3 linked regions of the Homo sapiens genome follow. The protein of the gene in region 1 interacts with the protein of each later gene in a pairwise test. Each region holds a gene or a part of one and is shown on either strand. Other genes may lie near its edges. The genes, in order: ZSCAN1, ERCC3 and HOPX.

What was found.
Region 2: the proteins of ZSCAN1 (region 1) and ERCC3 interact in a two-hybrid assay, tested with the Homo sapiens proteins (one large-scale study listed by BioGRID and IntAct).
Region 3: the proteins of ZSCAN1 (region 1) and HOPX interact in a two-hybrid assay, tested with the Homo sapiens proteins (one large-scale study listed by BioGRID and IntAct).

Annotation. Positions count from the first base shown.
Region 1 is NC_000019.10:58,032,396-58,036,145, forward strand, and holds the start of ZSCAN1 (zinc finger and SCAN domain-containing protein 1), read left to right. Parts: upstream 1-1,629; 5' UTR 1,630-1,766; intron 1,767-2,347; exon of another isoform or gene 2,348-3,574; 5' UTR 3,575-3,616; exon of another isoform or gene 3,617-3,750. UniProt on the Homo sapiens protein: May be involved in transcriptional regulation.
Region 2 is NC_000002.12:127,280,510-127,284,159, forward strand, and holds part of ERCC3 (general transcription and DNA repair factor IIH helicase/translocase subunit XPB), read right to left. Parts: intron 123-3,650; coding exon 1-122. UniProt on the Homo sapiens protein: ATP-dependent 3'-5' DNA helicase/translocase. Binds dsDNA rather than ssDNA, unzipping it in a translocase rather than classical helicase activity. Component of the general transcription and DNA repair factor IIH (TFIIH) core complex.
Region 3 is NC_000004.12:56,650,246-56,653,895, reverse strand, and holds part of HOPX (homeodomain-only protein), read left to right. Parts: intron 1-3,083; coding exon of another isoform or gene 3,084-3,213; intron 3,214-3,650. UniProt on the Homo sapiens protein: Atypical homeodomain protein which does not bind DNA and is required to modulate cardiac growth and development. Acts via its interaction with SRF, thereby modulating the expression of SRF-dependent cardiac-specific genes and cardiac development.

The sequences.
Region 1 (3,750 bases):
GATTATCCAGCTGAGGCAGCCCCTCCCCTCCCTGCCACTCCTGGGACTCTTAATCTCCAGGCCTCGTTTTATTTTATTCTAGGTATTTATATTTCCATGAAGCATCTGCTTTGTTTACTGGTGTTTGCCCCATGAACATGGGCTTCCAAGGGACTAAAGCCCTATCAGTCCCTCTCACTGATGTGCTCCCACCCCAGTGTCCAGAACAGTGCCTGGTACACATAGGCCCTCAATAAACAGCTGTCCAGCAGATGCTGGACCCCCTGGAGGTGGGTCCTCCTCTCTTTTCTTAGCTCACACTCTCCTGCTTCTTCTTCAGCAATGAGCAGCTTCAGCTATCCTGAGCTCAGTCCCAGAGCTGAGGACCCTCCTTGCATCATGATCTCACCCCCACCTGATTTCAGATACAAAACGAGTATCTGTGGAACCCTACTATTCTGGCACATGGTTACATTGTAGACATTAATATTAAAACTTATTTATATGAAATGTTCTTATGTAAGGTTTCGTTAAAGTATATGAAATATAGGACACATTGATACTAATTCCTTGTTTTTCTTTTTCTTTCTTTCTTTTTTTTTTTTTTTTTTTTTTTTTGAGACAGAGTCTCACTCTGTTGCCCAGGCAAGGCTGGAGTGCGTTGGCAGGTCTCGGCTCACTGCAACCTCGGCTTCCCCAGTTCCAGCGATTCTCCTACCTCAGCCTCCCGAGTAGCTGGGATTACAGGCACGCACCACCATGCCTGGCTAATTTTTGTATTTTTAGTAGAGACGGGGTTTCACCATGTTGGCCAGGCTGGTCTGAAACACCCGACCTCAGGTGATCCGCCTGCCTCGGCCTCCCGAGTTCTGGGATTACAGGCGTGAGCTATCGCGCCCGGCCTCCTTGTTTTTCTTGAGTTTACATATAACTGAGGTTTCTTTTTTCTTTCTTTTTTTTGGGGGTGGGGGGACGGAGTCTCGCTCTGTCACCCACGCTGGAAAACTGGAGTGCAATGGAGCAATCTCGGCTCACTGCAACCTCCGCCTCCCCGGTTCCAGTGATTCTCCTGTCTCAGCCTCCTGAGAAACTGGGATTACAGGCATGCGCCACCACGCCCAGGTAATTTTTGTATTTTTAGTAGAGACGGGGGTTTCACCATATTGGTCAGGCTGGTCTCGAACTCATGACCTCGTGATCCGCCTGCCTTGGCCTCCCAAAGTGCTGGGATTACAGGCGTGTCACCGCGCCCGGCCGACGTCCTGTATTTTTATTTGCTAAGAGTGGCGATCCTAGTCTGGGACATACTTGTACTAAACATATTTATATTAAAAACAATGTTTTAACATACTACTCTTGGACACTGTATAAAACGGTTGCGTGTCTGGAATGCCGTCGTTTTGCCCCGCGGCCCCATCGTACATGCGCATCCCCGCAGCCGCCACCGTCTCCACTTTCCGCAGCAGCGTCCCTGACGCTGCGCGACCCGTTGCCAAGGCGACTGGAACCGCGGCCCGAGGTAACTGGAGGGCACGGCGGGGGCGGGGCGCTCATCCCAGGCGGCTTCTGATTGGCCTCGGCCGCCTCGTGCGTCACAGCCCCGCCCCTGCCCGGGAGTCCCGCAGCGGTGACTTGTCACCGACGCCCGGCGTGATCCAGCGGACCAATGGCGGCCGCCCGCGGCGCGCAGGGTGCGGGGATGGGGTCCGCCCGCGGCGTTGGGCGCGCTCGCCAGCCCAGGGGTCGCCATGACCGAGTGGCCCAGGCCCGAGCGAAGCCCGCGCGCGGTGAGTCCGCCGCGGCCCATCCGTCCCTCCGCCCGCCAGAGCGTCCATCGGGACGCCCACCCGGGAGGGTCTCGGCGCCGCGTCGGCGGGAGCTGGCCCGGGATCGCGGTCCAGGGGCGCGCGTCGGGGGAGGCGGGCCCGGGCCCGGGAGGGGGCGGGCCGGGCCGGGGTTCCAGAGCCCATCGGGAGTCCTGAGGTCGCCGTAGGGGAGGGAAGGGGAAGGCTAGAGGCCACGCGGGGCGGGGACTGGGGGGGCTGGGGCCGCCCCTTCCGCAGGGACCCCGACCCCTGTTGGCATCCGCCTGTCCGTTTGAGGCCGAAGCCCCTCTACGTACCCCCATTGCCCGCCCAAACACCGCTCGGCCGCGTCCAAGTTCTCCCTTCCACACCTGATCAGCATCCCGGGACCTATCTCCCTCCTGAACAGCCGCCCCCGGACCCATCTCCCTCCCTACCCGGCCCCTTGGGCCCATCCCCCACTGGAACAGCAGCCCCCGACCCGTCTCTCTCCCTACAAGCTCCCCCTCCCCGCCCCAGGCCCATCTCCCTCCTGAACAGCCGCCCCCGACCCATCCCCCACCCAATCACCCCACCATCCTCCCCCCAACCAGCCGTCCACAGCCGTCGTCGCTGCCCCTCCCCTGTATTCCCAGTGCGCTGCCCTTGCACACTTCCCCAGCTCGTTTATTATGGAACTCCTCCGTGTGGCATCCTAAGCTCCCAACGCCCTCCCCACTGTAAGCCCCCTTCTCAAAGCCAGAACCATTCACTGACTGGCGCAGTGAACACGTCTTCTATGTCACTAAGCATCCGGCATCAGCGGCAAAGCCCTTCTGCCCATCCCCGCAATAGAATTTGGGGCTCGGGCTGCAGATCTCAGTGCCCATGCCAGGTGAACCTGGCCCTTCCACAGGCACTGAGCCCTCCAAGTGACACTCTCTCACACACACACATCCCCAACATTAATCAGAGACCCCTACCAAAGTAGACTTCTAGGACCCCAGGGCCACCACAGCATTGCCCATGGGGGGGCCCAGATCCTCCTCACCAGCCATGTAGACCTCAGTCCCCTTCACATCATCCCAGGCCCTCTTCATCTTCCAGAAACAGCCACCCATCAGTCCAGGACTCTCATCAGCTCAGGTACCCCCACATTGGCCTAGGTGTTCCACATCAGCCCCCATATAGACCCCAGACACACCCATGGACCTCTGGTGCCTTCTGCTAAGACCTCCTCTTTACCCTCATCCCTGATAAACTTAGCATCTCCTCCCACAGACCTCAGCCCAGGACCCTGGAGGATGCTGAGGGGCTACAGCCCCCCTCCCTAGAGTCTCCAGGGTGAGCTGCCATGAGCACCTGAGAGAGTATAAGGTCTGAGGCCCCAGGGCAAAGGGATTTCTTGAACCTGTGGAGCTTCAAAATAGGCCCTTTTTTCTTATTCAAAACTACATATATAAAAGTGTGAATACAACATAAGAGAGCATTTTTGCCTGTGGCCTTGGCAGGGAAGACCAAGCTGGTAGTTTCCCAATCAGGGTGCAGGTGGCCGGGTACGCTGACTCGAAGATGGCTGGCTGGGCACAGTCCCCGTGAGTTGCCTTTCTGCCACCCTGCACCTCTCCTTTCTCCTGGATTGTAAAACCAGATGCACGAGAACTGCAGAGTGTATGAAAAATGCAGCAGAGGATGAAGAGGGAAAAATCCCATGGAATCCCTCCTTTTCACTTGTCATAAGCATTTCCCATATGGTCAAAAATCCTTCCTAAAGATGTCTTGTTTTGTTTTGTTTTTCCATGTTGATGAAGGTCACATGGGAGCCCGACACCATTTGGAGGAGATTCAGAGAAGTATGAACAGCACAAAGCACTTGGCCGCCCCCCATGGGCGTCTTCCCAGGACTCCCTTTCTATGACACTCACGCATCATCCTGCATCCCACGTTCCCTGTGCCTCATGTCATCTGTACATCATGTGTCTACTCC
Region 2 (3,650 bases), on another chromosome or scaffold:
GAGCTTAGGCCCAATCAGAAAATTTAAATCCACAATTTTGTCATCTTCGCGGACGAGGGTCGCAGTCAAACCCAGCTTACAGTGGGCCTGCACGATGGTGAGCACCCTTCGGAACATCTTGGCTGAGGAAACAATGGGAGCATTCACACTGTCACTTTTCTTTCTTATTTTTTATTTATTTATTTTAAAATATTTTTTGTAGAGATGGGGTCTCATTATATTGCCCAGGCTGGTCTTGAACTCCTGGCCTCAAGCAATCCCCCTGCCTTCGCCTCCCAAAGTGCTGGGATTACAGACGTGACCCACTGCACCCAGCCTACACTGTCACTTTTTCAAATGCTCATAGCTGTGCAACTTAACACTGGCTTATGACACCACCTGAACTAACCCTTGGGTTTCAGGACCACAGAAGCTGGCTCTAGACAAGAATGACTAGGCAAATGCTTCACCATCACTTTTAGACCTGTCCAAAAGAAAATGAAAAGGAGAACAAGAGGGTGAAATGAGCTTAAGGAATCTCCAAGTTAATGAATCCCAGCATTCCCCTCACAACAGTTATCAGTAGAAGTACAGATGGCAATTTGAAATACAACCTGCAATACTTACTATTAATACCATTAAGCTCTAAATTACGCAAAGAATTTTCCCCTAACACTTGTACCCAGGTTACTGAAAAGAAAGTTGACAATCTAGGGAGAGGAAGAAATGAAAGAAGCCAGCTCTTCTCAGCTTCCCATCATTTTCCCAGAAACCGAGAAGAAAGCCAAGCCCACGGGAGTGATGAAACTCCAGGAACTGTTCGCCCAAGCCCTCCGGCCCGCCTTAGGAAACTCCCCTCTCCAAACTTTACCAATTCAATCACTTTGGTCAACCAGCAACCTCTTTTTCTTCCTTTCTTTTGAACATTATAATTCTCTCTGGTTTATCAAATAAAATAAACACATAAAGGGTATGAGTTATTCATTTTTAAAAAACCTAATTTATGGATTTCCACGGGCTCACCTTTTAAAAATTCTAATACTCTGAAGCAAGGTTAAAATGTTTGAGTCATGCTTATCTTACAATATAATTGAAAGTAGGGCTAATGATATTTCAGAAATAAATAGACACAAAAATCTAAGGAAAAAGAGGCCTGAATGCACCAAAACACAAAGACGTTCACAGTGAAATAACATAGGGTTGCCTAACTCTAAGTAAATGTTTAGTTTTTACATCTACATGGTTTGCACACAACACCACATGCAAACACACACACACAAACACACACACACACACACAACACAGAAAACAAAATCAGCTCAGGGTTATGTCTAAGGAAAGACTGTGCTGGCTCCAAAATACAGTAGCCAAGAACCTCAGACCAAGCTCCCCATGTTAGAGGGAAATGGTAGTCAAGGCAATGGCTACACCAACCCAGTGTGGGCCCCAGAGAGGCAACACTGGGGGACATACTGACCCAAGACAAGGATAAGGCAGGTAGGACTCTGCCTGGACACCCGTGACCCCATCACACCCCTCTATTACACTCTCCTACAGCCCTGACAGCTGTCACAGGTGAATAACTCACAGCATACTACTCAATATATTTTTACAGACATGCAGCTGTGGAACCACCTAGATCAGGATATAGAGAACCAGGCACCCAGAGGTCTCTCCCCTGACCCCTTCTGTCAATAACTAGCACTCTTCCTTGAGGGAAACACTCCTCTGACTTCTGAGAGGGGTCTGCCTCCTTTCTGAACTTTGCATGAATGAAATCATAGTATGCACTTTTGTGTGTGGCTTGTATCACTCAACATTATGTCATGGTTGTCATTTGGCATTTATTTGTGTGGTTACTTGGCTGTCCCTTCCACTTTGTCTCCAGTGCCAAGTACAGTGCCTAAACTTAGTAGGTTCTCAATAAATACCTGTAGAAATAATGAAACTGGCACAGTACCTAGCACACAGGAAGCACTTAATATACACAAGTACCATAATATGAATCATTAATAAAAAGGCATAACAGAGCTCCTTTTGAAAAATCTGTAAAACAGCACAGCAATCTTTATCCTTTGAGATAAATCTCAAAGATTGATCACTCCACCTAACCCAACACAGCAGACGTTAAGACAGTCAGGAGACTTACTGTGACTTCCTAGCATTCCCTTATTTAACATTTGCTCTCTGGGACAATGAGCATGGCCAGGCCACTGGGCTTATGGGGCCTGTACTCAAAAATCCCTTAGAGTTTGTTGGTTTCACTCCGCAACTCAACCAAAGACTAACTCATCCAGTGAACTAGACGAGAGACAGACAAACTCACAGACATATGTGAGTGTGAGATGCACCTTTTTGTACTTGTTCATCAGATAACCAATCCCAAATCTGTGCTGTTGTCCCCTGGAACCTGGGACCTGGGGCTTGGGTTAAAGAAAAACATGAACGTGTACCAAACATATAGTCAGACAGAATGCCTCAAGCCCTGAACACAGCTTCCAACCAAACTGCTACAGAACAATTCCAGACTCCTTTGTGGGTAGTGATTCTCTGTACCATCAATTTTCAATCCTAGCAGACCCAATACCCACCCTTCCACCTTTTTTCTTTTGAGTTTTTAAATTCTCACAGTAAAACTGACTTGGGGCGGGGGGTGGGGGGGGCACTTCTATGCATTTTAACATATTTACATTTTTGTAACCAGCACCACAATCAGGGTACAGATAAAGACAGCATCCCCCAAAATTCCCCTGTGCTCTCCTTTAGAGTCATCCATCTCTGACCCCCCACTTCTGGCAACCACTGATCTGCTGGCCAGCACTATACTGTCGTTGTATAAATGAAATCACATACTATGGAAGCTTTTGAGGCTGACTTCTTTCACTCAGCACCATGCTTTTGAGATTCATCCAGGTTGCAACATGCAGCAAGTTTGTTCTTTTTCACTACTGAGTAGTGTTCCAGTGTATGGATGTACCACAGCTTGTTTATCCAGACACCCACTGATGAGCACCTGGGTTTTGGATATTATGAACAGAGCTGCCATAAACATTCGTGTACAGGATTTTGTGTAAACCTCTTTTCATGTATCCAGGATACACAGGAATGGGACTGATGGGTCATGTGGTAATTTCATAATAAATGGACAAACTGTTTTCCACAGTGACCATACACTTTGCAATCCATCCCTCCAGGAATGTGTGACAGTTCAGTTGCTGTGACCTCATCAGCACCCGCACATCAGTATTTTTTATTTTGGCCCTTCTAACTGGCATATGGGAGCATCCTGTGGTGGGTTTAAATCTGCAGTTCCCTGATGACTAATGAGGTTGAACCCTTTTTCAAGTGCTTTTTTGACATATGTATATCCTTTTTTGGTGAAATGTCTATCAATTTCTTTGGCCTATTTCTTAACCTTTTTGCCATGGCCTGAATGCCTAACAGGAAACTCAAATTCACACATCTAAAGCCCAACTCCTGATAGTCACCTTCCAGACCAGCTCCTTTGAGAGTGTTCCCCATCTCAATTAATGCCCACTGTATCCTCCCTTTGTTCAAGCCAAAAACCTTAGTGTCATTCTTGATTTCTCTCTGATTCCACACCTGACCTGTCAATTAAAGCTTCACAACATATCCAGAGTCGGATCACGCCTTCATCCTTACTGGGATTC
Region 3 (3,650 bases), on another chromosome or scaffold:
TAGGAAGAAGAAAAGGGCACCTGCTTTTTTTCTGTGACTGAGGTCAGCCAATTCAGACCTCTGCATAGCAGGTTCTTCTGCACCTCTCAGGCAGTCCTCCCATTTCCCCCCTTCTGCCATTCTCAAATAAACAAGTGGTAGACCCAGCCCCAAAATGAGTGGATGTGGGGTGAGTCAGCCTCTTAGCAGGGCCCCTGGCTTCCTCTTCCTGCCACAGGACCAACACCTTCTTCCTCCCTATGGCTACCACAGCTTGGCTTGCCCCTCTGTCTTCCTGCCTTGACCTGCAGGGAAGCATCTGGAACCCCAGAGCTTAGAGACAGGCAGCACTTAGCAAGCTCAGAGAAAGAGACTTCCTAGGAACCACAGGCTGTCTGCTTGCCCTTACTGGATTGGGTGTCATCTTTCAATTTCCCATTCTTTCCCCTCTCACCCCACTACCCCCATGGGTACTGGTGAATGAGAATGATTTCTTCTTTCATCTTCTCAAACAACATTTATATTTTTAAAGAGTATCTCCTATGAAAAAGAAAGTGTCTGGCTGGGCACAGTAGCTCACACCTGTAATCCCAGCACTTTGAGAGGCTGAGGCAGGAAGATTGCTTGAGGCTAGGAGTTTCAGACCAGCCTGGGCAACATGGCAAGACGCTGCCCATCTCTACAAAAAATAAAAAATAAAAAAGTAAAAAAATCAAACAGGTGTGCTGGTGCATGCCTGTAGTCCCAGCTACTCTGAAGGCTAAGGCAAGAGAATCCCTTGAGCCCAGAAGTTCAAGGCTGCAGTGAGCTATGATCATGCCACTGCACCACCTAGCCTGGGTTACAGAGGGAGAACCTGTCTCAAAATAAGTAAGTAAATAAAAATAAAAATATTACAAAAAGAAAGTGTCTTCTGGAGACATATGCCCAATGATGAACTTTCCGTCATTAAAATTATTTTTGTTTATAGCAGGTCTTGAGGACCCTTTAAATAACTCCATGGAGGCTAGGACCTGCTGGGCCTACATATAAGTAATGTCTGGTATTGACACTTCCCCAGTTTCTTTTTCTTTCTTTCTTTCTTTTTTTCTCTTTTGGAGAGAGTGTCTCACTCTGTCATTCAGGCTGGAGTACAGTGGCACGACTATGGCTCACCTCATCCTTGGCCTCCCAGCCTCAGGCAATCCTTCTACCTCAGCCTCCCAAGTAGCTGGGATATAGGCATATACTACCACATCTGGCTAATTTTTAAGCTAATTTTTAAATTGTTTGTAGAGATGGGGGTCTCACTATGTTGCCTGAGCTGGTTTTGAACTCTTGGTCTCAAGCAATCCTCTTGCCTTGGCCTCCCAAAGTGCTGGGATTACAAGCATGAGCCATCGCAGCCAGCCTCCCCTATCTCTGTTCTTACTAGTGTTGCTCCTTTCCATGGGAAAGGGTCACTAAAGCCAAACTAACATTTGTTTCATGTGCCTGAGTCCTCATCCCACCCCAACACCACCCACCTCCAGAAATGGAATCATATTCTTAACTTCCCTAGAACAAGTAATACTTCAGTACCACAAAAAGAAGCCTGAGCTGCCCAGTGCTCTTGCAAGATAGTTACCAGAACTGATTCACAGGGCCGATACTTGGGGCAGGGACAAGCGGGACTAAGAAGTTGAAACATTCTCTGTCTTGGGAGATTTGCTGGCCTCTTTATAATTGTCCCACTTCAGGACAAAATTCTCTGTGGGGGTGGAGGTGGCACCCATAAGAACTCAAAGTAAAGTGAAGGGTGCTGTAATTGAAATAACTTTCTAAGTTGCATTTACTGGGATGTTAGAATGGGTTTTTCTCAATACAGTAATCTAAATATCTCCTAGATTTAAATTAGATGAAAACTTACAGAATCCCAGCCCTATGTCTTTTATTTTGAAGTCAGTTTTAGAAGAGGCTGGGAAATCTCCTTCCTCAGCCCCGTGGGAGGTTGGGATGATCTGGTGTTTTCTATTATTTCAAACACACACACACACACACACACACACACACACACACACACACTCTCTCTCTCTCTCTTTCTCTCTCTCCCTTTCTCTTCAATTCAAGCACAATGTAACTGGAATTGGTTCTTAGGGAGGTCTCCAAGTATTTTTATCTCCTCTTGATGTCCTGAGCTTGTTCCCAGAACCCAGTGGTTTTAGTCACTGGATGTTTTATCGGTGGAATAAAGACCTCTAAAGGTCTCTTCCTGAAAAGAATGAAATGTTAGTTACTAGAGAAAAGGACAGGAACAATGTTCCTTTGCCCCAGCCCCTACCCATCACAGTGTCTAATTATCATCTGTTTATTCAGAGTAAATAAATCTCCATCAATGGGCAAGGGTAATGAGGGCATTCATTTATAAGCAAGCAAGGGATGAATGTCTTTCCCAGTGGATGACTGAAACAAAGAAGAGAAGGATAAAGCCAGGTGGAAAATTAGCACTGATGTGCATGAGATTGATAAGATACAGCTCTAAAGGGAAAAAAGCAAGCAAGGTATTTAATGATTTCTGTTGGATTGCAACTGGTTTTGCTAAATTATTATATATATACTTGATTTAAAATACGCATCTTCAAAAAACAGTTGAGCTTTTCTTGACCTCCTCCCATCCCCCAATGTTAGGGCTCAGTTTGTTAAGCATTTGGGTACCAACTCACAAAACCACAAATGTGGTCCCTGCTGAAGTTATTTTCAGTAACAGTCCATCAATATTCTGCTTCATTACATAGTGTAAAGATGTGGGTGGCTCTTTTAAATGAGACCAGCTCAACCATTTTTTCTTAAATGAAATCTGATAGAAAGTGAGATTTTCCTCCTCCAGATTTTAATTAGTCAGTCTTTACAATGCTGCCATTTCTTCAGCTGTAGTAACTGGAAATCCTATTTAATCAGACCTTGCATCCTTGAAACCCCCCACAGAGCTACCTCATTAATGAAACTGGAACCTTGCTGCTCTCATACCAGAATCCAGAGTTAACTAAACACACGCACACAGGTTACAGAAGAAAATGGGCCCACCCTTAGCAGTAGAATTTCGATTGAAGCTGCCAAAGTTACATGAGTTCTCTCTTCTCATGAAGGGTAGTGATTTGATCTCCAGGAGCAAAATATGGCACCCAGAAAGTAGCCCCCAAAGAGAAGGCTACCCCCATGATAGTCTGCCGTGCTTGGCTTTCGATTACTTTTCTCTACTGCCGCCCCAGTGTAAAGGTATGTAAGATCTTGACAACTGTGTAAAGGATTTCAGTGTGTAAACTCTGCTGTACAGGTGGGTGAGGTGTAGGTGTGTTCCCATGCTATTCAGCCTGCTTAGCATTGATGTGGAGCCCAAAGCAGTCCTGCAGAGCCTTACCCCCATTCAAGCTCAACAGCCTCTCCTCTAGGCCTTGCTCCTTCTCCCCCTGTGATTCTCACACTTTCTTCTGATCTTGGGCTTATATACTGAATTCCCTTTCAGCTTCCTAGAGCCCATCCTGTTCATTCTGAGTATCTGTATAGGCATCAAGCCATGCTATGTGGGGAGCCCTCTAGAGGTTTCTCACCATCCCATCTCCATCAGCACATCCCAGATCTGGCATCTCACAGCTGTGCTCTTTCTGCTTCCTTCCTGTTCCTCGTCCCCTTACCCCTAGAACAGGTGAATTATA